Linked DNA regions of Homo sapiens: regions 1, 2 and 3 are each linked to region 4. Evidence: fine-mapped expression QTL. A gene starts in region 4. Each other region holds a variant in brackets. All regions are shown on one strand. Distances are from middle to middle.

Region 1 (6,170 bases), 43 kb before region 4:
AAGTCCATCAGTCACTCTCAATTTTCTGCACTTGCGTTTTTGATTCTAAGCATCTTTTATGTGATTCCTCATTAAGTTTACTGAGGCATTACGTGTATGGGGTTCTTTAATTTCTGTGGAAAGCACTGTAAAGACACTGGCCACCACCACAAGGTCACAGGGGAAGACAACTGAAGAATAGACTTTGGTTTTTATTGTGTGCCAGAAAAACAATCAGCCTTATTTCCTTCTGGGTTCTCGAGGTTATCTGCCAAGAACCCACAGGGCCGCAAAGAGAATTCTCTCTCCTGTCTGTCTTTAAGACTAAATTAGCACAGACTCTGAATCTTAAAGTTTTTCAAACAACCCAATGAAACCATCACTGGAAAATTTTAACACTGGCAATAAAAACTAATTACCCGCACTGATCTCAGGACTTGGTGGTGGTAAAATAAAATAACAAAGTGACACTGAAATCACTTCCTTTCTCTACACCAGCTTCCACCTCCGAATGTGGGCTTCGGGAGAGAAAAAAGAAGGGATGAAATTGAAGAGAAAGGGAAAGGGTCACTCTGGAAAGATGTGGACTCACTCAAAACTGGGGAGTAGGCCAGGCGCGGTGGCTCACGCCTGTAATCCCAGCACTTTGGGAGGCCAAGGTGGGCCGATCACTAGGTCAGGAGTTCAAGACCAGCCTGGCCAATATGATGAAACCCTGTCTCTACTAAAAATTCAAAAAATTAGCTGGGCATGGTGGCGGGCACCTGTAATCCCAGCTATTCAGGAGGGAGGCAGGAGAATCACTTGAAGCCAAGAGGAGGAGGTTGCAGTGAGCCAAGATTGCGCCATTGCACTCCAGCCTGGGTGACAGAGTGAGACTCCATCTCAAAACAAACAAACAAACAAAACACAACTGGGGAGTGAAATTAAAGCTGCCTGAGGGATAACCAGCTTGACAACGGAGGCTGGTTCTATTTTCCCACTAGAGAAGAAAGGGAAGTGGGTTTCAATAGCAGGGAATGATCCTGGCCTGGAAGAATTCCTGACACAGAGAAGCTATGGAGACTTCCATGTGTGGAATCCAAGGACCCCCTGTCCCCGTGTTATTTAAAGAGTATTCCCTGCGCTTGGCTGGGTGCGGTGGCTCATGCCTGTACTCTCAGCACTTTTCAAGGCCAAATAGGGTGGATCACTTGAGGTCAGGAGTTCGGGACCAGCCTGGCCAACATGGTGAAACCCCGTCTCTACTAAAAATACAAAAATTAGCCGGGCGTGGTGGTGCACACTGTAATCCCAGCTACTCAGGAGGCTGAGGCAGGGGAATTGCTTGAACCCAGGAGGCGGAGGTTGCAGTGAGTCAAGATCGCGCCACTGCACTCCATCCTGGGCGACAGAGTGAGGGCTCTGTCTCAAAAAAAAAAAAAAAAAGAAAAAAGAAAAAAAAAGAAAAAAAAAAAGAAGAAAGAAAGAAAAAGAAAGAGTATTCCCTGTGCCACTAGGATAAAAATACGTGAGAAATGTAGGTAGTGCACGCGTGCACGCTTCTAGTTTCCATAGTTATATATTTCTTTAGTGTGTAAAGGAAAAATATGTGAGCTTCATCCTTCCAGTTGTCCGAAAGACCTTGGAGCCATCCCTGACAACTGCTTTTATCTCACAGCTCACATTCATTCCAACAAGCGATCTGGATCTATCTTCAAATTATAGCCAGAATCAGCCATTCCTCACTACCTACAAGGCCTCCATGCTGCACAGGGCCACCATTATCTCTTGTTTAGATAACAGCAATTGAAAGTGCAATTGCCTCCAGTGGAGGGTGTGACAGTGCAACCTGCAGACCTCCCTCCTACTCCTGGGAGCATAAATGCTGGACTTCGAAATCCAGCCTTCAGCCTCCCACAGCTCTTCCCTGTCAATCACTGGTGCAGCAGGGCACTAAGGCAGACCTGTTCCTGGAAGATGAGGTCTCCTTTGTCAGCAGCCTTTGGCTGAAGGGCTTTCCCATGGCTTCGCCCAGCCTTTCCCATGCCGCACTGCAGTCTGGGACACTTTCACCCATTTTTCTCACCCTCTTCTCTTCACTGGGGTGGGACCGGCATCCTGGTCTAATGGTTCTCCCAGCCTTCCTGGGCTCCCTCCCCATTTTCTCTCACACAAGCACTTCCCCTAATGAAATCCTTGCATGTTTAAGCCCATCTTGGTGTCTGTTTCTGGGAGGGCACAGACTGATAGTCACTCTAACCAGTCTCCCTGCCCTTGGTCCTCCCAGCCAATTTTCTACCCAGGAACCAGAGTGGTCCTGTTAAAGCACAAATCAGATTCTGTCACTTCTTTTCTCAAAATGCTGCAATGGTTTCCCCATTTCACTAACAGTCAAACCCAAGGTCCTTACGAATGTCTGCCATGATCTGCTATCACCTACTCCC[T/C]ATCACCACTCTGATGTCCTCCTCAACAGCTCTCGCCCGGAGCCCACTCCTCTCCATCACGGGCATCCTGCTGTTCTGTGTTCATGCCAGACACTCCTGACTCAGGGCCTTTGCGTGAGTTCTCCCTTGGCCTGGAATGAGCTTTACTCAGGTTCCTGCATGGCCAATGCTCTCATCTCCTTCAAGGATTTGCTCACATGTCATCATCTGCCCAAGGCCCCCTCACTATCCTACTTAACACTCAGCCTGCCCCTCACACCCACATTTCTGATTCCTCATCACCTCTTCCTGTTCTACTTTGTCTTTTTCCCCATGGCACTCGCTCGTCACTTTCTGAAATACCAGATATTGCCTTCCACATCCCCTCTCTGTGAGGCTGGAAGTAAGGCATTTCAAGATGATGAGGCCAGAAGATGTGGGCTCAGAAGTGTGCTAGCCATGAGAGCCCCCTGGGACGAGCTCCTGTGTGAGCAGGAATATTCATGCTGCACTTTGTGAGAGCGAAAGGTAAACCTTTTTGTTCTAAGCCACACTGATACTTAGGGGTGGTTGTTCTTTCATGACATCTAGTGCTAATTACCTAACTAATACTAATCTATTTTCCTTTCTCTTCTTTTTTTTTTTTGAGATGCAGTCCTGCTTTATTGCCCAGGCTAGAGTGCAGTGGCACAATCTCGGCTCACTGTAATCACCACCTCCCTGGTTCAAGCAATTCCCCTGCCTCAGCCTCCCGAGTAGCTGGGATTACAGGTGCTCGCCACCACATCCGGCTAATTTTTTTTTTTGTATTTTTAGTAAAGACAGGGTTTCACCATCTTGGCCAGGCTGGTCTCGAACTCCTGACCTCAGGTGATCTGCCCGCCTCGGCCTCTCAAAGTGCTGGGATTACCGGCATGAGCCACTGTGCCCAGCCATCTATTTTCTTTTTCAAGGAGCAGCAGGGTGATGGTCTAGATGATCCTGCAAAGTCCCTCCCTGGACTATAACATCGGAGTGCTCATACTTGGGTTATTCCAGAAGAGACAAGAAGAAATAGCCTAAAACAAAAGCTTCTAGGGGTTGCCATGAACATATTCTCAGTGATAGCTGTTCATGAAGGCAACCTTCATGGGTTCCTAGTACCAAGTCCTGCCTGTGACGTTTACAAAATCCACTGCTGCATCAGCTGCTTCTGATTTCAGGAAAGCACAGAGACCTGGTGTATCAGTCTCTCGTGGAGGAGGTGGACTGGGGCATGCCTGGATTGTGGGGTAAGCTAGGCATGTTCCATCTGGAAAAGTAAGTTTAATATTAGAGTCATATTTGGAAAACAAGACTAATATTATTTCCAATTTTCTTAACTATTGTAAGTAAGCAAAGACAGATTGAATTCTTTGTTTTATGTTTTGCAAGAAGGGCTGGAAAACTTTAGTGCTGGAAGTGTGAGAGGAGAAGACCATCCTTGCACATATCAAGAGAAACAGAATTTAAAATTCCAATGAGATACCATTTCCACCTATTATACCGACACATAATAACGGCAATGACAACAACTAACATTTCTGAATGCTTACTAAGAGCTGGGTTCTATTCTAACTCAGCGTATCCTCACAACAAAGTTATTGGTAGGTATTTAAATTATCCCCAGTGTACAGATGAGTAAGCTGAGGCACAGAGGGGCTAAGTAACTTGCCCAAGGTCACTCAGCTACTAAGTGGTAGAGATGGGATGCATACCATGACATAAATGGATCATCTTCAAGAAATAATATTAAGTGAATTAAGCAAGGAACAAGAGTGTGTTTAGTATGTTACCACTGGGTTGAAAAAATATGTGTGTATTTATGTGCATGTCTATCCACATGCATACATATGTACTTTTACATCTGTATATTTATGTATAGCTGCATCTATAGATCTATATCCATATCTCTCTGCGGTCTCTGATAGAATCCTTAAGGAACTGTTAACTGGTTGTCTCCTCTGAGGAATTAAGTGACTGGGGAAATGGGGGTATTAGAAGCTCAGTTTTCTCTCTCTGCTCTTTGGTGTCATTTGATTTGAATCACATGCTTTAAATGAGCTATTCAAAAAGATAAATAAAAAATTTATTTACTTTATTGACTGAAAGAAAAAATTGCAAACGTATATAATCCAACCTGAGACAAGGAAACAGTTCTCTCCATGAGCGTCTTGGTCCGCTTAAAGCCCGGGTCACTTTCTGCAAGGACATTCATGGTTTTCTTGCCGATGAATTCCAACGCATCAAGGCCTCCAGTTAAGACACTTTTACCCTGCAGATGAGATAACTGCATGAGATTAGATGTTTAGGTTTTGCTGTTTCGCAGCAGTCAGCAACTCCTAGGTAACTGGCACTATCTTCAAATATTAAAATCAATATAAAGTCACAATTTTTTCTCATCAGGAGATTTATCATCCATTTAATCCTATTCTCGTTTCCTTGGAAAAGCATATGTTATATAATTTGTAGGACATACAATGTTATTAAAGACTGATGCTTAGAAAAAAACCAAAGCACATAAAATAAAATTAATCCCACAAAGGGATTAATTTTACTGGCTCTCTGTGTATGAATGGATGTGTATCTAAGACATAAAATTAACATAAAATAAATTGCTAAGACATAAAATTAACATAAAATAAATTGCTGTTTCTGTTTAAAAATTTTTTTAACCCAAGTAACAGAGTTGCTTGGAGCAGTCTATTAAAATGTCAAACAGTCCTGCTAATTTAGGGAATTCTTTAATCTAGGGCCCTGGAGGGTAAGACCCTCAGGCTGTTTCAGATGGTTCTTGCATACTCTCAGAAACTAGCAATAACTGCCTATAATTAGTATATCCATGAAATGAGACAGGTTGATTTCCTTGTACTTCTGGCTTTAGAAACTGGTGTATTATATAGCTATCCTCCTGCAAATCCCTTTGTCAGTCATTGTTGCTTTTTTTAAAAAATTAAAATAACCCAGACTTACTCACACATAAACTATTCAAGTGAACAGAACTGCATACATGTCTTTGCAACTCTTTCATACTTACACTCCAACTGTATAACTGCAATTATAATATGCATACATCTGTGTTTTTCCCCACCATATATAAAAATGATATAAATTGTATTTTATTATGATATTATTACTGATATGCATTTTCCAATCTTCATAATTATCATTTAAATAGAAGTATTTAATTTCATAGAATTAATATACTTTATTTTCATCTTGGGTATTTAGACTTTGTTTTTAGATTTGGGAGCCAACCAGTAATCATGCTGTAAATCAGTTTTCAGTGCGCACACTTCGGGGGGATGATGGGACAGCAGCAATTCACACTTCTGTGTAATTTGACTTAGTGCCTGCTAACATCCTATGAAAAATTATTTTATTGAGAATAAAATGGTGGAAGAAAGGACACAGGGATTTGTGTTAAGGATAGACTTGGAGGGGTAGTGTCTGGAACTTGGGAAAAAGGGGTCAAGAAGGTTGGAGAGAACACAGAAAGGAATGTGAGGCTGCTGAAGACAAACTCATAGTGCCCTCTTGGTAGCTCAGATAGGCCGTGAATTCATTTCTTATACCAGAGGTACTGACAGAGCTCCATCCATCTCCCATCCTACAAACCCCCCACGGGGGTGGTTGACTTGTATTGCTACTTGACTCCTAAGACAGATTTGCTGCTCCTCCTTACTTCCCCCACCCCAGTCTAGAGGTCCTCAAATAGCAAGGAGAAGACCAGTCATTTTCTATATTTCTGGCATGTCCTGACCCCAA
Region 2 (6,170 bases), 30 kb after region 4:
AAATAATGGGACAAAGGAAAAGAAAAGCAAAAAAATTAACCATCCACCCCACCCCCCAAAAAAAATTAAGAAGAAAAAGTATATCACAGGGACAGATTATGGGCAATTGCATGGAGGTAGTCCATAAGAGCTGGCCAACTTTCACCATTATTAATATTTTAAAGTCTTGCATCACAACAAATAGCTGATTTATTTCTTTCAGGGCACTGTTCTCCTCAGAGAATACATTCACATTTATTTTCGATGTGGCACTGCTTGTTTGGAAATGCTTCTCTGCTTCTATTTACATATTTACACCAACATGAGCATTCCTGTTAAATGTTCTCATCTTCAGTGCCGTGCTTCTGTGTTGATTTGGGTACATGAAAATCTATTCTGCATGCACTCATATACAGACCACACATTTGGCAGAAACAATACTGGTGATCAATCAACAACAGCATTGTGTGTCTTCTTTTTTTTTTTTTTTTGAGAGGGAGTCTTGCCCTGTCACCCAGGCTGGAGTGTAATGGCGCGATCTCGGCTCATTGCAACCTCCACCTCCCGGGTTTAAGCAATTCTCCTGCCTCAGCCTCCCAAGTAGCTGGGATTACAGGAACCCACCACCACGCCCAGCTAATTCTTGTATTTTTTTAGTAGAGACGGGGTTTCACCATATTGGCCAGGCAGGTCTCGAACTCCTGACCTCGTGATCCATGGGCCTCAGCCTCCCAAAGTGCTGGAATTACAGGTGTGAGCCACCACGCCAGTCCTGTGTCTTCTTATCCTACCATATGCATTATTATTTTCAAATCAGTCAGTAACTTCACTGGGTGCTTTAGGCAAATGCAACTTTAATTCATTGAGAACTCCTGGTATTTCATCAGCCAGAAGGAATGCCAGTGCAGACAAATAATGTATTTTTAAACTAAATTTTTCATCATTGCCACATTATGTGGCCAATCCTCTCAACTGAATTTTCTGACAAATGCATTGGGCTGAATGGAAGAAAACAAACTTTATTGGTAACACCTTGAAATTCCCTTTTAGAAGCCTTGATCACACCTAATTCCAAATCAAGTGATAGGTCATTATGATTTGAGGATTCAGTTGGACATTAGGGATTTTAGACTTTGGGGACTTTGATCTTTTAGGATTTCAGCCTTCAGGATTGTGTCTTTCGGGATTATAATCAGCACTGCTGAAAGTCTAGCTCAGCACTGGCACCACTGTCGAGTGCCCATCGGAGGTTTCTCAGGCTCAACTAAACATTCATACCCAAATGCCCCAATAGGCCACACTCAGAAGCTCAATTTTCTACCTGGTACTTATAGTTCATACACAGTCCTTTCATCCTGGATGCAATTTACCAGTCAGGGATCATTGTTACAATAAGTAATGTTGGCTGGTACACAGCTGACTTTCTACATGTTTCAGGTTTTCAGAATAGGGCTAGGAAGTTAACTTGAGGTCAGATCAGTCCATGGAGAAAGAGAGAAATGGATTTGTTAACCCTTCAGCCGTGAAGGGTCACTGGTTGCAGCAGATGGCTGAGTTGGTGCCAAACTGGATACTGGTATAAACTACTGAGTATGTCTTGGAGTTTTTGGGACTGGCTTCTTGCCTGCTTTTTTAAATTATCAAACCGGCTGGTCTAATATTTGGTGGTGGGGAAGGATAAAAGAACTTCTTCTTTAAAAGAGAATAACTATTTTTTGAGTACAGCACGTAGTTAACTTTCAATACAGTTGATTTAAAGCCTTTGCCTAGTAAGTCCAATGTCTATGCTTTTTCCATTTCTATTAATTTTTTTTAAAAAAAAATCAATAGACTTTATTTTTTAGAGCAGTTTTTTTTTGTCTATTTAGTTTTGCCTTTCCTGGAATATCATATAGTTGAAATAAAATAGTATTTAGCTTTTTCAGACTGACTTCTTTCACCTAGCAAAATGGATTTAAGGATCTTCCCCCCCTTCCCTCCCCTCCCTCCCTTCCCTCCCTTCCTCCCCTCCCTTTGCCTCCCCTCCCTCCCTTCCTTCCTTCCTCTTTCTCTCTTTCTATTTCTTTCTCTCTTTTTCTTTCTTTCTCTCTCTTTCTTAACTTTCTTTCTCTCTCTCCTTCTCTCTCTCCCCCTCTCTCCCTCCTTTCTTTCCTTCCTCCCCTTCCTTCCTTCCTTCCTCCCTTCCTTCCTTCCTTCCCTCCCTCCCTCCCTTCCTTCCTTCTCTTTTTCTCTTTCTTTCTTCTTTCCTTCCCCACAAAATAATTATACATATTTATGGGGTAACTACAATATTTGACACATACATACCGTGTGTCAAATCAGGGTATTTAGGATATCCACCATCTCAAACATACATCATTTTGTGTGTGGGTGGGGGAGCATTTCAGATCTTCTCTTCTAGCTGTTTTGAAATATACAATAAATTATTGTTAGCTATAGTCACCCTACTGTGTTATTGAACACTAGAACTTTTTCTTTTTATCTAACTGTATGTTTTTATCCATTAACCAACCTCTCTTCATTCCCTCACTCACCTCTTAGTCTCTGGTAACTATTGTTCTACTCTCTACCCTCCTGAGATGCGTATTTTAGCTCCCACAGATGAGTGAGAACACAATATTTGCCTTTCTGTGCCTGGCTTATTTTGCTAATGTAATGACCTCCAGGTCCATCCATATTGCTGCAAATGACAGGATTTAATTATTTTAAATGGCTGAATGGTATTCCATCGGGTATATATATCACATTTTATTTATCCATTCATCTGTTGATGGACTGTTAAGTTGATTCCATATTTTGGCTATTGTGGATAGTGCTGCAATGAACATGGAGGTGCAGGTATCCCTTTGATACACTGATTTCTGTTCTTTTAGATAAACATCCAGAAGTGGGGTTGCTGGATTGTATGTTAGTTCTATTTTTAGTTTTTTGAGACAACTCTGTACTGTTCTCCATAATGGCTGTACTAATTTACATTCCCACCAACAGTGTATAAGAGTTCCCTTTTCTCTGCATTCTCACCAGCATTTGCTATTTATTGTCTTTTTGATGACAGCCATTTAAACTAGAATGAGATGATATCTCGTTGTGGTTTTGATTTGCACTTCCTTGATGATTCATGGTGAGCATTTTTTTCATATAACTCTTGGCCATTTGTACGTCTTCTTTTGAGAAATGTCTATTCAAATCCTATGCCTACTTTTTCATAGGATTATTATTATTTTTGCTGTTGAGTTGTTTGAGTTCTTTGTATATTGTGGCTATTAGTCTTTATTGGATGAATAGTTTGCAAATATTTTCGCCCATTTAACCCTGTTATCTATTCACCCTGTTGATTGTTTCCTGTGCTGTGTAGAAGTTTTTAGTTTAATGTAGTCCCATTTGTCTATTCATATTTTCAT[TG/G]CCTGTACTTTTGAAATTTTAGCCATAAGATCTTTACCTAGACCAGTGTCCTCAAGCATTTCTTCTGTTTTCTCTTAGTAGTTTTATACTTTCAAGTCTTACATTTAAGTCTGTAATCCATTTTGAATTGATTTTTGTATATGGTGAGAGATAGGGGTCTAGTTTCATTCTTACAGGGGTCTAGTTTCATTCTTATACATATGAGTGAATATGAAGCCAGCACCATTTATTGAAGAGAGTGGTCTTTCCCCAGTGTATGTTGTTGGCATCTTTGTTGAAAATTGATTGGCTGTAAATATGTGGATTAATTTCTGGGTTCTGTATTCTGTTCTATTGGTCTATGTATCTGTTTTTGTACCAATACCATGCTACTTTTGCTTTGCAGTATCGTTTGAAGTCAAGTAGTGTGATCCCTTCAGCTTTGCCCCTTTTCCTCAGTACTGATTTGGCTATTTGGGGTGTTTTCTGGTTCCATATGAATTTTGAGATTATTTTTTATATTTCTGTAAATAATATCATTGGTATTTTGATAGGGATTGCATTGGATCTGTAGATTGCTTTGAGTAGTGTGGTCATTTTAACAATGTTAATTCTTCCAGTCCATGAACATGGGATGTCTTTCCATTTTTTTGTGTTCTCAATTTCTTTCATCAGTATTTTGTAGTTTTTGTTGTAGGGGCCTTTTGCCTTCTTGATTAAGTTTATTCCTAGGTATTGTAATTGTCTTGTAGCTATGCAAATAAGATTGCTTTCTTGATTTCTTTTTTCTTTTTTTTTTTTTTTGAGACTGAGTCTCACTCTGTCACCCAGTCTGGAGTGCAGTGGCACAATCTCAGCTCACTACAACCTCTGCCTCCCAGGTTCAAGTGATTCTCATGCCTCGGCCTCCTGAGTAGCTGGGATTCCAGGTGTCTGCCAACACACCTGGCTAATTTTTTGTATTTTTAGTAGAGATAAGGTTTCACCATGTTGGCCAGGCTTGTCTTGAACTCCTGACCTCAGGTGATCTGCCCACCTCAGCCTCCCAAAGTTCTGGGATTACAGGTGTGAGTCACCACACCCAGTCCTTGTCTGGTTTTGGTATCAGGAAAATGCTGGCTTTGTAGAATGAGTTAGGAGGAATACCTTCATCTTTAATTTTTTTGAATAGTTTGAGAAAACTTTGTGTTAATTGTTTGTTAAAAATTCAGCAGTAAAGCCATCCAGTCCTGAGATTTTCTTTGTTGGGAAATGTTTTATTACTGATTCAAACTTATTACTTGTTATTGGTCTGTTCAGATTTTTCTATTTCTTCCAGGCTCAAATTTGGTAGGTTGTATATATCCAGAAATTTATACATTTCCTGTAGGGTTTCCAATTTGTTAACATATAGGTGTTCATAATTGCCTCCAATGATCTTTTATATTTCTGTGGTATCAGTTGTAATGTCTCCTTTTTTATTTCTGATTTTATTTATTTTGGTCTTCTTTCTTTTCTTGTCTTGGTTAGTCTAGCTAAAAGTTTATTGGTTTTGTTTATCTTTTCAAAAAATAATTTTTTTGTTTTATTGATCTTTTCTATTTTTAAATATCTCTTTTGTTTAGTTCTCTGAGCTTTAGTATTTCTTTCTTTCTCCTAACATTTGAAAGTGTTTGTTCTTGCTTTTCTATTTGTTCTTGCTTCCTTGAGGTTCGTTGTTAGGTTGTTTATTTCAAATCTTTCTACTTTTTTGATGTAGGCATTTATTGCTATAAATTTCCATCTTAGCATTGTTTTTGCTGTGTCTCCTAGGCTTTGGTGTGCTGTATTTGCATTTTAATTTTTTTCAAGAAACTTTTTTACCTCCTATTTAATTTCTTCATTCACCCAGTGGTTGTTCAGGAGCATGTTGTTTAATTTCCATGTATTTATACAGTTTCAAAAGTTCATCTTGTTATTGATTTGTAGTTTTATTCCATTGTGATCTGAGAAAATACTTGATATGATTTCAATTTTTAAAACTTTTGTTGAAACTTGTTTTGTGGCCTAAGATATGGTCTATTCTGAACAATGTTCCATGCACTGATGAGAAGAATGTGTACTCTGCAGCTATCAGATGAAATGTTCTGTAAATATCTGTTAGGTCCATTTTGTCTAAAGTGCAGTTTAAATCCAATGTTTCTTTGCTGATATTCTGTCTAAATGATCTGTTCAATGCTGAGAGTGGGATGTTGAAGTTCCCAACCATTATTGTATTGGAGTCTATCTCTCTCTTTTGATCTAATAATATTTGCTTTATATATCTGGATGTTCCTGTGTGGGGCACATATATACTTAGAATTGTTATATCCTTTTGATGAATTGATCCCTTTAACATTATATAATGGCTTTTTTTGTCTTTTTTAATAGTTTTATACTTAAAGTCTGTTTTATCTGATAAGTATAGCTATTCTTGCTTGCTTTTGGTTTCCATTAGCAAGGAATATCTTTTTCCTTTCCTTCAATTTCAGTCTATATGTGTCTTTGAAGGTGGGGTGAATGTCTTGTAGGCAGCATATAGTTGGGTAAGTAAAAAAAATCTATTCAGCTAGTTTGTATCTTTTAAGTGAGGAAGTTAATCTTTTTACATTCAAGGTTATCACTGATAGGTAACGACTTATTTCTGTCATTTGGCTTATTGTTTTCTGGTTGTTTTGTATATCCTTTGTTCCTTTCTTCCTCTCATTGTTTATCATTGAACTTTGGTGGTTTTCTGTAGTAGTAACTTCAACTCTTTTCTCTTTCATTTATGTATTTGCTCTACTAGTGAGTTTTATACTTTCATGTGTTTT
Region 3 (6,170 bases), 25 kb before region 4:
GTATGCAAACAAGAGAAAAATGCCAAGATTTCCTTGCTTTTCAAAATTCCAGCATGTAGCCAGAACCATAGAAAATACTAAGGTTCTGTAATTGGTGGTGTAACTGACAAAGATCTCAAACAGAGACGAGAAGAGAATTAAGGTAGGCGGGATGCACCACATGACAAACTTACGGTCAACGACGGGCCACATCTATGACAGTGGTCCCATAAGATCATAATACTGTATTTTTCCTGTGCCTTTTCTATGTTTAGATGTGTGAAATACACAAATACTTATTATTGTGTTACAATTGCCTACAGTATTCAGTACAGTAATAAGCTGTCCTATGTTTGCAGCCTCGGCGCAATAGGCTTTACCACATAGCCTAGCTGTGTAGGTCTGTGTATACTTTGGAGGTTTGCACAATGATTAAATCACCCAACGACCCATTTCTCAGAAGGTATTCCCATTGTTAAGTGAAGCATGACCGTATTGAGAGACGGCCCCAAGATTCTTGTCCCCAGATGTATACACCCTATGTGATCCCTTCCCTTTGGAGTGTGAGCCGGAGTGTAAACAGGATGGGATTTCACCCCTGTGATTAGGTTACTCTATCCAGCAATGATGGGGAGAATTTTCACATGTAATTAAGGTCCTTGATCAGTTGAATTTCAGTGACTCAAAAGAGAGATCATCCTTAGTGCGCCTGAACTAATCAGGAGCGTCTTTAAAACAAAGGGGCCCTTCCTGAAGGTAGCGATTTGAAGCATGAGAGAGATTTTCCTGCTGGCTTTGAAGGAGGACCTGAGGGCAGCCTCTAAGAGCTGAAAGTGAGCCCTGGTCAATAATCAGCAGGAAAACAGGGACCTCAGTCCTACAACTTCAAAATCTGAATTCTGCCAACAACGTGAATGACCCTGAAAGATGACGTCTTCAAAGCAGAGGTGCCAGCTGAGCAGCTGGCAGAGCCACTGGCCTCATCTTCGACTCTGGGCCCCCTTCTAGCTGCACCACCCTATCCTCCAGAGACTTTAAAGTTATGGGTGCCTTCCTGATCTGTGGTCTATGTTGAGCCATTATCTTGGGATTGAGAGAGGCAAGCGAGGAACAACTTCCATTATGTACAAGCATAGTGTCAACCCCAGGGCCATGCTGCCTCAGGTAAAAGTGAGCCTCAGATGAGAATACAGCTGGCTGCCACCCTGATTTTAGCCTGTTAAGCTCACATTATTTTACATGAGCAGCTGTCCCATACCTGAACTCTTGACCCACGGAAACTGTAAAATAATGAATGCATGTTGTTTTCAGCCTCTTTAACTGTGGTAATTCCTTACATAGCAACAGAAACTAATACAAGAGGGTATACTGAACTTCATTCTGATATTGCATGAGGAATGTGCAAATGTCATACACTCTCAGAGAAACCACGTGTTTACTCACCCTAGAAGAAAAGTGGCAAGTTTTTCCATCCACGGACTGACAGCTCGCCCATTGAATTTACTATCCAGCATCTTCTTAGGTGTCCTTTTGTAATCTGATCTTTGCATACGTGCAGATTTGGTTCCAGTGGACTGTGCTCCAAGGCCTCTAGGTTTTGTTACTTGGTTCAAATATAACCAGTAGATGGTGCTGACATTACTACTTAAAAAGCGGGATATTATTTTTCATGGCACAGTGACCATGTGACTGGCACAATGCTCATGATGGCCTACAGGAATTTACCTCTCTAGGCTCTTCTGGATCAATGATTACTCAGAGCCAGATGCGAACCATCACAATTTATAAATTGTTGTGAGAGTAACAAGATGCAGTATTTATTATCTGCATGGTGGCTCAGACACAGAGAAACTTTAAGAGCAACCCCAAACACAAGCACAGGCCGCAGATTAAGACAATGACGTCGGATCAAGTCAAAAGGGACCTGCTGTGAAAAATCACACCCTGCTTTTTTTTTTTTTTTTTTTTTTTTTTGAGACATACTCTCATTCTATTGCCCAGGCTGGAGTGCAGGGGCGTAATCTCTGTTCACTGCAACCTCCACCTCCTGGGTTCAAGCAATTCTCCTGTCTCAGCCTCCCATGTAGCTGGGACTACAGGCACCCACCACCACGTCCAGCTAATTTTTGTATTTTTAGTAGAGATGGGTTTTCACCATGTTGGCCAGGCTGGTCTTGAACTCCTGACCTCAAATGATCCATCCACCTCGGCCTCCCAAAGTGCCGGGATTACAGGCGTGAGCCACCATGCCTGGCCACATCCCACTTTTTAAGCAGTAAAGTCAGCGCCATCTACTGGTTACATGTGAACCAGGTGACAAAACCCGGAGGCCTTGGAGCACCATCCACTGGAACCAAAGCTGCATGTGTGCAAAGGTCAGATTATAGCAAGACACCTAAGAAGGTGCTGGATAGTAAATTCAATGGGAGAGCTGTCAGTTCATGGACAGAAAACCTTGGGAGGGTCCAACAAAGCCCAAAGTCAAATGAGGTACAGACACTGAATGAGAAACAACAGCAAATGGTCTGACCAACCAGGGCTAGAGCAGTTACAGGGAGATGCACCTTTAAGTGTGCACAGAGAGCACCTATAGCTGCTACCACAGAGCAGATGATTTCTGTGTTTACTGTGGCAGGAACTTATATTTAAAAGTTTAATGAAAGAGTAAGTCCTCCATCTATACTAGAACCCTCGAACCACCAATTCATTATAAACCAGAGTGGTTTGG[A/C]TGCGGTTAAAACTGGAAACATCCAGGACACATGACTGTTTTATGATATAAACCACGAGAAGAGCTGTATAATTTTAGTGACCATATTATTTACTTTTTCATGACTTATTCCAATTAAAACAATCTTTTAGAACCTCCTTTTTAGTTTTTGGCTTAGAAAGCATGTCACTTCTAAGTGCCACCAGTGGCAAGATCCTTTTGATAGCCACTAAGTTCAAACATTTTTCCAAGGACAGAGGATGCCTGCAGGTGCTTGTCCTCACCCTTGTGAAGAGATAGCATCCTGTTCAGAAAACAAAACAGGCGCCTCTACTTGAATTTAGTTAAATTTGTCATCTGCATATGTGGTACTCAAGGCATAGCCATCCCCTTAATAAGCAATAGAGAAAATCTGCTCTCCAGGCTTACCAGAGAGGTCAACATTTATTTGGCCATTGCTACTTCTTCCCAGAGCCTTCCTGAGCAAACTGATATTTGACAGAGATGGAATTAGAGGAATGCAATCTATCCATTCTTCCAGGCAGCCTAAGCTCTGTCAAGTTAGATATCTGGCCCTTAACACTGTGGTCATGGTCCACTGGGGTGGGGCAAAAGGCCTGAAGACCTTCCTGGTTTTAGGAGTAACAGTGAAGTGGACCAATTCATGGCCTATCGCAAGGTCCTCATGGCCATGGACTGCACCTTAGAATACCTGAAGTGGATGATGTGAAAACTCTGTTACCTGTGGCTTCCCCTATCTTCTTATCTTCCACCTTCAAGATGAAATGCCTTTGCTAAATTATCTTAGACATATTGATGTTATACCTTCAGTTCTCATGAAGAGAGAATATAAGAAATGGTAACATGAAGAATATCATGACAAATTTGCACTCAGGAAGACACTACACTGTCCATCATATTTTCTCTTTGTATAAGAACAAATACAGGAAATTTCTTTAAAAATTTAAAACCAGAAAAATATATTTATTTAAATTAAAATTTTGTTTTCAAAGAGAAATAAATAATGTACTGGCAGCCAAGAAGCTCAGAGTTGAGGTCAATACTCAATTACAAAAACTCTATTAGCCATGGGATGTATAAAATATGTATCCTCCCTACCAGCACATTGTTTTCTCCTTATATTGTAATATCCTGCTAATGAAATGCCTTTTATCAAGATATCTCAAATCCTTTTTGGGAGTAGATGCGTTGTGCACTAAAAAAATTCAAGTGGGACGATAAACACGAAGCTTTAAGAATATATTATACTTTAAAAGACCATATAATATAGTGGCTAAAAGCCATACTACTTGGCTTTTAAATTGCAACCCAGACATTCCTGACTTTGGTCAAGGTCTTAGTCTCTCTCTGATTAGCTTCCTTACCTGTAAAGTGCAGCAAACAACAGTTCCTCCATATAGGGTTATTTTGAGGAACAAATGTATTGGAGGAATAAATGAAGCACTTAGAATAGTAAGCACTAAACATGGTTTGCTCACGGGCTAATGTTAAACTCTATTAGTATACAGTACGATCAAAACGTCCTATCCTATTAGGCTTTGGTACTTTGTCTATTCCAATGCAACATACAATGCTTACCTACTGTGGCAGATGCTGACGACAGCAGAGATTTGCCCCAGGATCCCCAGCCTGCCCATCCTCCTCCACTTGGAGGGGAATCCACAGCCTGGAGAAAAACAAATTAGCCACAGGTCAGAAATTCAGTATATCTCTGAATGGAAAAACACCTATTGGTTTGAAACAAAGAGGAGGTTTGGAAAAGAATCACCAACAACCGTATCTAATTGGCTTATAGTTTATAAGGGTCATAAAAGAATATCCCAAACCACACTGCAATGTGTACTTTGGAACCAAATTGATTAGTGCTGATGTTGGCTTCTGAAGGCTTGGTTTGAAGTGAGAAGGGAGTTTGATGTTAACTGAGCCTCGATTCTCTCTTATTATTTAGAAGACAGGGAAAAGGCTGCATGGGAAAAAGATACGCATGAGGGCACAAGAGGGATTTGAAAAAGTTCAAAATGATCTGGACCCAGGCAATTCTTACAGGGCTTAAAAAATGTGCTCTTCAAGGTAGAGTTAACTTTTAAACTCTGGGGCAGTAGGCAGGTGCTTTGGCATGGATGATGGGCAAAGTGTCTAAAAAGCGTCAATACACCTGGCGATGGATGGGCAGTAGTGACAGGAAGGCTTGCAAGGTAGAAACCTTTGATTCAAGGTGCCCTGCTTCACTCATAGTGACTCCTATAACACAGGGATAAGACTGTCCCTGACCTCAGTGGATTCCAATTCGTTTGCCTAGGTTTTTGGAATTGGAACTGAGAGACTGTGGTTCAGTGTGAACTGTGTGCATGAACAGAAGTTGAAAACTCAGGCTATGTGGATGACCCTGTTATATCCACCACGCAGACTAAGAATTAAGAGAAGGCAGAGTGAGCAGAATGGAGACTGGCTTAGAGCTGCTGTTTGGATTCCTGACAGCTTCTCAGTCCCTGGTTTCTGTCCCTCTGAAGGCCCTGCTGCTTTCTGATCTTTGGGTTCTATGAGATTCTCTCATATTCTTGTTCATTTTTTTAAATGTTTTATTCACTGATATACTCTCAGAGCTTAGAAGAGTGCTTGGAATATAATGAATGCTTAATAAATATTTGTTGAATAAATGGCTGAAACTCATCCATTTTCTCAGGTATGCGTGTTTCTGTTACTTGCAACCAATGAGTCCTAACTCAAGTAGGGAACCACAGCTTTCTCTTTCTATCTGGGAACACATTCTAGAAAACAAGGCAAGAATAAATATTCTATGAGTTACCTGTATGGAGAATCATAGCTCTTTTTTACTCAAAAGAGAAGAAGGAAGGAAGGAAAGAAGGAAGGGCGGGCAGAAAGAAAGTAAGGAGGCAGTGGAAAATTCCTACAGAGTTTGTAGATTCCATAACTTTTGACTCACAGCTGGTCCATTAGTCATCCCCAACTCCCAACTCCCTTGCTGTTTTTTTTTGTTTTTTTTTTTGAGACGGAGTCTTGCTCTGTCACCAGGCTGGAGTGCAGTGGTGCGATCTCAGCTCACTGCAAGCTCCACCTCCCGGGTTCACGCCATTCTCCTGCCTCAGCCTCCCAAGTAGCTGAGACTACAGTTGCGCACCACCACGCCTGGCTGATTTTTTCTATTTTAGTAGAGACGAGGTTTCACCATTTTGGCCAGGATGGTCTTGATCTCTTGACCTCATGATCCGCCCCCTTGGCCTCCCAAAGTGCTAGGAATACAGGTGTGAGCCACCATGCCCAGCCTCCCTTGTTATTTTCTACCCTTGCAGATAAGGATGGCCATATGAAACAGTTTTCAACCAATGAGATATATAAATGGAAAAGTTTTTGCTTTCATGATACATTATAGTTACAGCGAGTGCCCACTCTTTCCCCTTCTCTTTTTTCTGCCCTGAATGTGGACCTGAAGCTTCAAATTGAA
Region 4 (6,170 bases):
ACTCAACCCACAGAAACAAGGAGGCTGCTTCAGGAAACTCTAAGGAGAGGAAGGGTGGCATATAAAGAAGCCTTTGTGGGCTGGGAATAAGTTAGTTTTTCGTGAGTAAATTCATTCATCACCTAAAATGCTCCCAGAACTATGCAAGGTATTTAAGCAGCAACATCACAGCTCCAAAAATAAGTATAAAACAGAAGACATGGTCACTATCCTTCAGAAATCAATCATCTGTTTGAGGAGCTAACACAAAACAGTTAAAAAGTGATGCAAAACAGCACAGCAAATCAAGGACAGATGTGCCTGAACTAGACTGACCCTGTGCAAGGGAGAATCTTGAAAGTGTCTTTGATGTGGTGATTCAGGCCTGGTGGGATGAGAGCATGTGCAAATGTCCAAGCATCAGCGATGGACTGTAGTGATTCAGGACAGGTGTCTGAGAGGCCAGGACATGAGGCTGCATGGAGGAATGATGAGAGGTGGGAGCGATGGTATTCTGAGGTGGAAAGAGTTGTGTCCTGCAGGCGTCAAGGGATGTGGCCTCTGGTCCCAGTATCCCTTTGTGGGCACACAACTTGATCCTCACTGTGCTTACACCTGCTCCTCTGTAAAGCTAGGATGGACAAACTGATCTGGATGCTTTTTTTTCCAAACTCCACCTGCAGGACTGGGGCAAGTCTGTGATGATAGAGAAAAATGAGGACAAGATTGCAAGTTTTTCATAAATCTAAATTTATTAAATGTAAAGGACTGCCTTCATCTTTCAAGTTTAGCCTTTGTGCTTTTTCTTGGTATTAAAATGTCTTTCATTTTATGAAATAGTGACAGTGGATGGATTTTTTTAAAAAAAATGGCCTGACTTGGCAGCATAAAAATTTGGTTAGCATGATATCCTGTGTGAGGTCATCTCCCCCAGTTAAAAAAAAAAAACAAAAACAGTGCCAGTCAGCGAAGGACCAGGAATAAAAACTCTGGATGAGAGGCTCTTAATCAGGTTGTAGCAGTTTGTATGAGTTTGTATAAAGCTTGACAAGTCTACGTACCCAGGCTCCAGCCTATTCTCTGTGAGGCTGCCAGGCATTTTTGGACCTATTTGCTCTCCTGTTCAAAAACCATTAGGTGTAAATATCTTCACACTTCCCATCATAATCCAGCTCCAATCTCTCTCCACCTCTTGCAACTCTCAGTATCCTCCACTCCTGCCTCACCAGTCTTTTCTCCATTCCCCATAACTCTTCACATCTCCCTGCCTTTGCTTACGCTGGTTCCTCTGCCCCGGTGCTGCCCTTCCTCCAGCTGCCTGGCAAACTCCTATTCCTCTAGACACCCAGTGTCTAATGTTACCTTTCATTCTGAATTTTTCCTTAATCTGCCCCACTGCTTCCAATGAAATAACTGCTACCTCTTCTATGTTTTTGGCACTTTGCACAGATTTCTATTCCATGTATTTATGGAGTATTTACTTCTGCCATTCTGTCCTCCAAGACTGTGACCAACAGCACCTAGGTTGGTTTCTGTCCCTCAGATATTTACTGAATTGAAATACATTGTGTTTGATATTAATAAAAGAGAAACCATGTTTGATGTAAGCCTGGTCAAATAAACAAAGACAAGTTTACTTTTATGGTCTGAATCGCTCAGATTCAAGAAAGCCCCCTCCAACCCTCAAATTCCTTCTGCACTGTCTCACTTGTGCCTCAAATCCATCCCTAACGTCTCATTCCTTCACTTAAAGGTTACAATGTAAGAAGTTTATCAGATTCTTTCCCAAGCTCAGGCTTGATGGAAGAAAGGAGGGCGGGGACGCAGGCCTATGGGTGGGGTAGGGAAGGAGCCACTAGGCTGCAGAGAGGGCAAAAAGAGGCTCTGAGGATAGAGCCTGTCTCATTCTCAGTTGTCACAGGTTGGCTGAGGTCACAGGGAGTTCAGAGCACACTGATTTAAGAAGCCACCTGCCTGTGTCCTTCAAGATGTTTAGGATGGGAAATGATGGGATCAGTAGGGCATAGGTAATGCTCTCACAGCCCATAGAGAGATGTCTTCCTACTTAAGAAAAGGCAGTGACGTTCAGGCGCCTGGTCTGAGGTGCCTGGAAATACTCACCGGATGGCAGAGGCGAGGGCTAGCCGACTGGGTGGAGGGGGCCTGGGGATCTGCGGTAGGGAGTGGGACCCATCCCGGGGGCTGCGAGTGGAGGCGGTGCCTGCTTAGAGTGTTGGCTGGACTGGAAGAGCAGGCAGGGCGTGGGTCGGCTGTTGGGGGAGGAGTAAGGCGAGGGGAGCGGGGAGGTCAAGGCCTGAGCTCCCTGTGCCAAGGCCGAGGGCAGGCGCACCCTGGGACGAGGCCTCTGTCTTACAGGGACCTGCTCCCTTCGTGCCCGGGCTGGGGGACCCTGCAGCCCACCTCTGACTTGGCCCCGAGCCATTGGGGGCACTTTTCCAGACTTGCTTGGTGCCAGGACTGGATACTTTGGGAGATCCAGGCAGGCTCCGCGGAGGTTCACGCAGGCCGAGGGGGCAGACCCTGAGTGTGGGCGTGTGGGTGTGTGCATGAGCGTGGACCCGGAGCGACACACACTCACACACACACACTCACACGCCCGCACCCACGCAGGTCCCTCGGCCGCGCCGCCCCAGACCCTCACCCCAGAGCCGGGTCCTCCCTGACCACTGCTTCTCACTAACGCAGAGGGCAGGATTCGTGGGTCCCGGACGAGGCGCCAAGGTATGGTGTTCCCACCACCCCCGGGCAGCCGCCCCCGCGCTCGCCCGCCCCCCGGGGAAGGGGATGGGGACCGAGTGCCCGGGGCTCTTACCGCTCAGGCGGCCGAGTACGCGCGGGAGTGCCCAGCGGGTCCCGCCCCGCCACGTCTGCAGGGCCGGCGGGGACGCGGCCGGAGGGCGGGCGGCTGGAGAGGGGGCCCCGCCCCGCCTGCGCCCCGCCCCACGAGGAGCGCCGCGGGGACGCCCGGCCACCCCCACGCTGCGAGGGCCGGGCCCGCGCTGGGCGAGTCTCCTGGAAACTTGGCTTGTCCCACCCCTGTGCCAGCGCGGAAAGCCAGAGCGCGCCGCCTCTCCAGCCCAGGGCGGGTGGGTCTCGGGGTTCGCCAGATCCCTTTCCTTTCCTTAAAAGGGCTTGGAAAACCCCCCGCCGTGTCACTGGGAAGAGGTCGCTCAAATTCAGCTAAAGTTTGATCTCCTGATTCTGCGTTAAGCAGCACTCCCTTGCCCTGTCGGTGGGAGTGTGATAGATTTAAAACAAACAAACCCCAAACAAACAACGAAAACCCACTTTCCAGAAGGCCAGTTTGGAGCTGTGGGTTAAAACTCCGATGTATTAGCTTTGGCCTAGGAATTCCACATTTGTGAATTTGTCCTAAGTAGGCAGTCAAATGGGCAAATATGTATGTACAAGGATGTTTGTTGTAGTTGTTTCTGCGGGGGGAAGCCGGAGACAATCTCAATGTCCCCCAGTAAGATTGGTGAAGTAAGCTACAGTAACTTCAGACATCGAATATGTTGTAGCCCTTAAAAATGAGGATTCGTTGACATGGAGGGAAGGCCACATATGAAGGCCTTCCTCAAATATGGCTTAATATGAACTCAGATGCGGAGGAAGCGCAGTGTTTATAGTATTAACTAGTTTTGTAAACAATTTTGTATTTTCTATAAAAGTCGGAGGAAATACAATTTAAAAATAGTGATTCTTTCTGAGCGATGTGTTTAAGGCAGATTTTCTCCTCTCTCACTCCATCCCTTCTTCTTTTTGAAGAATTATAAATTCAAAGTTAAAGAAAAAATAGCCCTAGTCTCTCCCTTTCAATATCACTACCATTTTTTATAGTGTGTGGATCCTACCATAGTTTTTCTAAGCTTATATAAATACATGTATGCATAAACAGCTTTTTGTTTGCTTTTTTATAAAAATGGCGAGATGTTGACGTATTTTGTAAATTTCCCCCTATTTATTATATATTATAATCATCTTTCTTGGTCAATACATATCAACCAAAACCACTCTTCTAAGACTTGTCTTATATATTGCAATATGTTTGTAATTATATTTCATTCAATCATTCTCCTATTGACAATTAGTTTGCTCCTTATATTCCAGTTTCTTCCATATATATATTAATTAATTTATTAATTCATTTTTTTGAGATGGAGTCTTGCTCTGTCGTCCAGGCTGGAAAGCAGTGGCGTGATCTCAGCTCACTGCAGCCTCTGCTTACTGGGTTCAAGCAATTCTCCTGCCTCAGCCTCTTGAGTAGCTGGGATTACAGGTGCGTGCCACCACACCCGGCTAATTTTTGTATTTTTTAGTAGAGACGGGGTTTCACCATGTTGGCCAGGCTGGTCTCGAACTCCTGACCTCAGGTGATCCACCCACCTCGGCCTCCCAAAGTGCTGGGATTACAGGCATGAGCCACCGTGCCTGGCTATATTTCTTATTTAATATTTTTATTAAATATTTTTATATTAATAATTTTTTAAGCTACTGAATATTTATTTTATTTTATTTTTTAGGAGGACAGAGTCTTGATCTGTGGCCTAGGCTGCAGTGCAGTGGCACCATCTCCATCTCCTGGGTTCAAGCGATTCTTCTGCCTCAGCCTCTTGAGTAGCTGGGATTACAGGTGCGTGCCACCACACCCGGCTAATTTTTGTGTTTTCAGTAGAGACAGGGTTTTGCCATGGTGGCAAGGCTGGTCTCGAACTCCTGACCTCAAGTGATCTGCCCACCTCGGCCTCCCAAAGTGTTGGGATTACAGGCGTGAGCCACCACACCCAGCCTGTCATTTTTAAATTCATAGAAAAACCAGAAAGTTATCTTAATGTGAGAGTGGGTGGAAACTGCTTTAAATTGAGATCAATAGCCTTTTTGAATTGAGCGAGACTTTGAACCTTAACTAACACGTGGCTTCTGTAACTCAGTTTTTCCACCTCTAAAATAAAGAGCATTGCTCGGCACAGTCCCTTCCAGTTCTGGCTTTGCGAGTGTTATCAAATTATGTTCCAGTTGCAACAGGTGTGTTTTGGTGTAGCATATACACAGACGTCTGTGCCTGGGACTTCTGCTCCTGCCCAGAGACAGCAAGCACCTTTGCTAACCTGCCTTCCCTTCCCTGCTGTGCCGTAACAGCCCAATCAGATGTTCTCTTTTTAAAGGGCTGAGTTCCTCTTCTCCTTTGACCCAAACCACACCTATCCAATAAAGAAAATAAAGCAAACTATCCTGGCAACAAGTTTGTTTTTTGTTTTGCCCACTGCAAATTTGTCCCTTTTACTCATGTAGCTGCTTCCAGGACTACCAGATTTTATTTCAGATATTTTATTTATTTGCAATGTAAAACATTTTAAGTTCATTTAAAAATTTTCTGGAGTATTTAAAATATATAGAAAAGTAAAGAATAATATGACAAATACTTATTTGTGTAAAAAATATAGGAAATACTATGATGATATCTAGATTTAACAAAATTTTTTGCAGTATTTATTTTAGAATTTTCTTTGCAAAGAAAAAAATGTTACGGATATGTTTGAAACCCTATCCCTTCCATTGTCCACCATCTCTGCAGGTAGCCATTTTCTTGAGGTGGTTGTATATCCCTCCCACCCATATTTCTTTCTTTCTTATTTAGGAATGAGGTCTTACTCTGTCACCTAGGCTGGAGTGCAGTGGTGTGATGACGGCTCAGTGCGGCCTCAGACTCCTGGGCTCCAGCAATCCTCCTGCCTCAGCCTCACAAGGAGCTAGGATCACAGGGTGCCACTGCACCCAGCAAATTTTTAAATTTTTTTGTAGAGTCGTGGTCTTGCTGTGTTGCCCAGGCTGGTCTCAAACTCCTGGCTTTAAGCAATCCTCCCGCCTCAGCCTCCTAAAGTACTGGGACTACAGGTGTGAGCCACCATGCACAGCCCCCCTCACTCATATTTCTAAATGTTTGCTGCATATGTCCTCACCCACAAATGCACGTATAATTGTTTTTCAATGTTTTAGAATATTAAGGACATCCTGTACACTTGTTAACTTGCATTATATTTTTGAGAATCATTCATATTCACACATGTAGCTCTAGCACATTCATTTCAAAGTCTTCATAGGAGGGCATGAATATGCCACAATTTATTTCCCGATTGATCTACTTTATTGTGCTTCATATTTCACTCAAT

Which allele goes with the higher level. Alleles are on the strand shown, and positions count from the first base shown. SD is a standard deviation of normalised expression in the study named. Not every link is listed here.
With allele C in place of T in region 1, the expression in testis of the gene that starts at base 2,841 in region 4 is higher (small effect, 0.32 SD a copy in GTEx).

Evidence for each region.
Region 1: its variant is fine-mapped to the expression of FAM114A1 in testis (GTEx, PIP above 0.99). The same link has a PIP of 0.9 or more in atrial appendage, breast, caudate, gastroesophageal junction, lung and ovary.
Region 2: its variant is fine-mapped to the expression of FAM114A1 in whole blood (TOPMed, PIP above 0.99).
Region 3: its variant is fine-mapped to the expression of FAM114A1 in whole blood (TOPMed, PIP 0.94).

The regions. Positions count from the first base shown.
Region 1 is chr4:38,907,099-38,913,268 of GRCh38, reverse strand. FAM114A1 (family with sequence similarity 114 member A1) reads right to left here. Exons shown (of 15, transcript NM_138389.4): 7 at 4,543-4,677. Among named protein-coding and RNA genes, the nearest start is that of MIR574, 42 kb to the right of the region's middle. The variant T/C (reference allele first, on the strand shown) is at 2,406.
Region 2 is chr4:38,834,934-38,841,103 of GRCh38, reverse strand. All of the region lies in intron 1 of TLR6 (toll like receptor 6), which reads left to right. Among named protein-coding and RNA genes, the nearest start is that of TLR6, 19 kb to the left of the region's middle. The variant TG/G (reference allele first, on the strand shown) is at 3,381.
Region 3 is chr4:38,889,946-38,896,115 of GRCh38, reverse strand. FAM114A1 (family with sequence similarity 114 member A1) reads right to left here. Exons shown (of 15, transcript NM_138389.4): 4 at 4,286-4,373. Among named protein-coding and RNA genes, the nearest start is that of MIR574, 25 kb to the right of the region's middle. RefSeq lists an enhancer at 5,004-5,173. The variant A/C (reference allele first, on the strand shown) is at 2,708.
Region 4 is chr4:38,864,477-38,870,646 of GRCh38, reverse strand. It overlaps FAM114A1 (family with sequence similarity 114 member A1), which reads right to left and starts at 2,841. Exons shown (of 15, transcript NM_138389.4): 1 at 2,813-2,841; 2 at 2,101-2,249. MIR574 (microRNA 574) reads right to left here and starts at 2,615; the gene lies at 2,520-2,615. It also overlaps a transcript of TLR6 not described here. RefSeq lists an enhancer at 1,707-2,290 and silencers at 2,498-2,547, 2,598-3,077.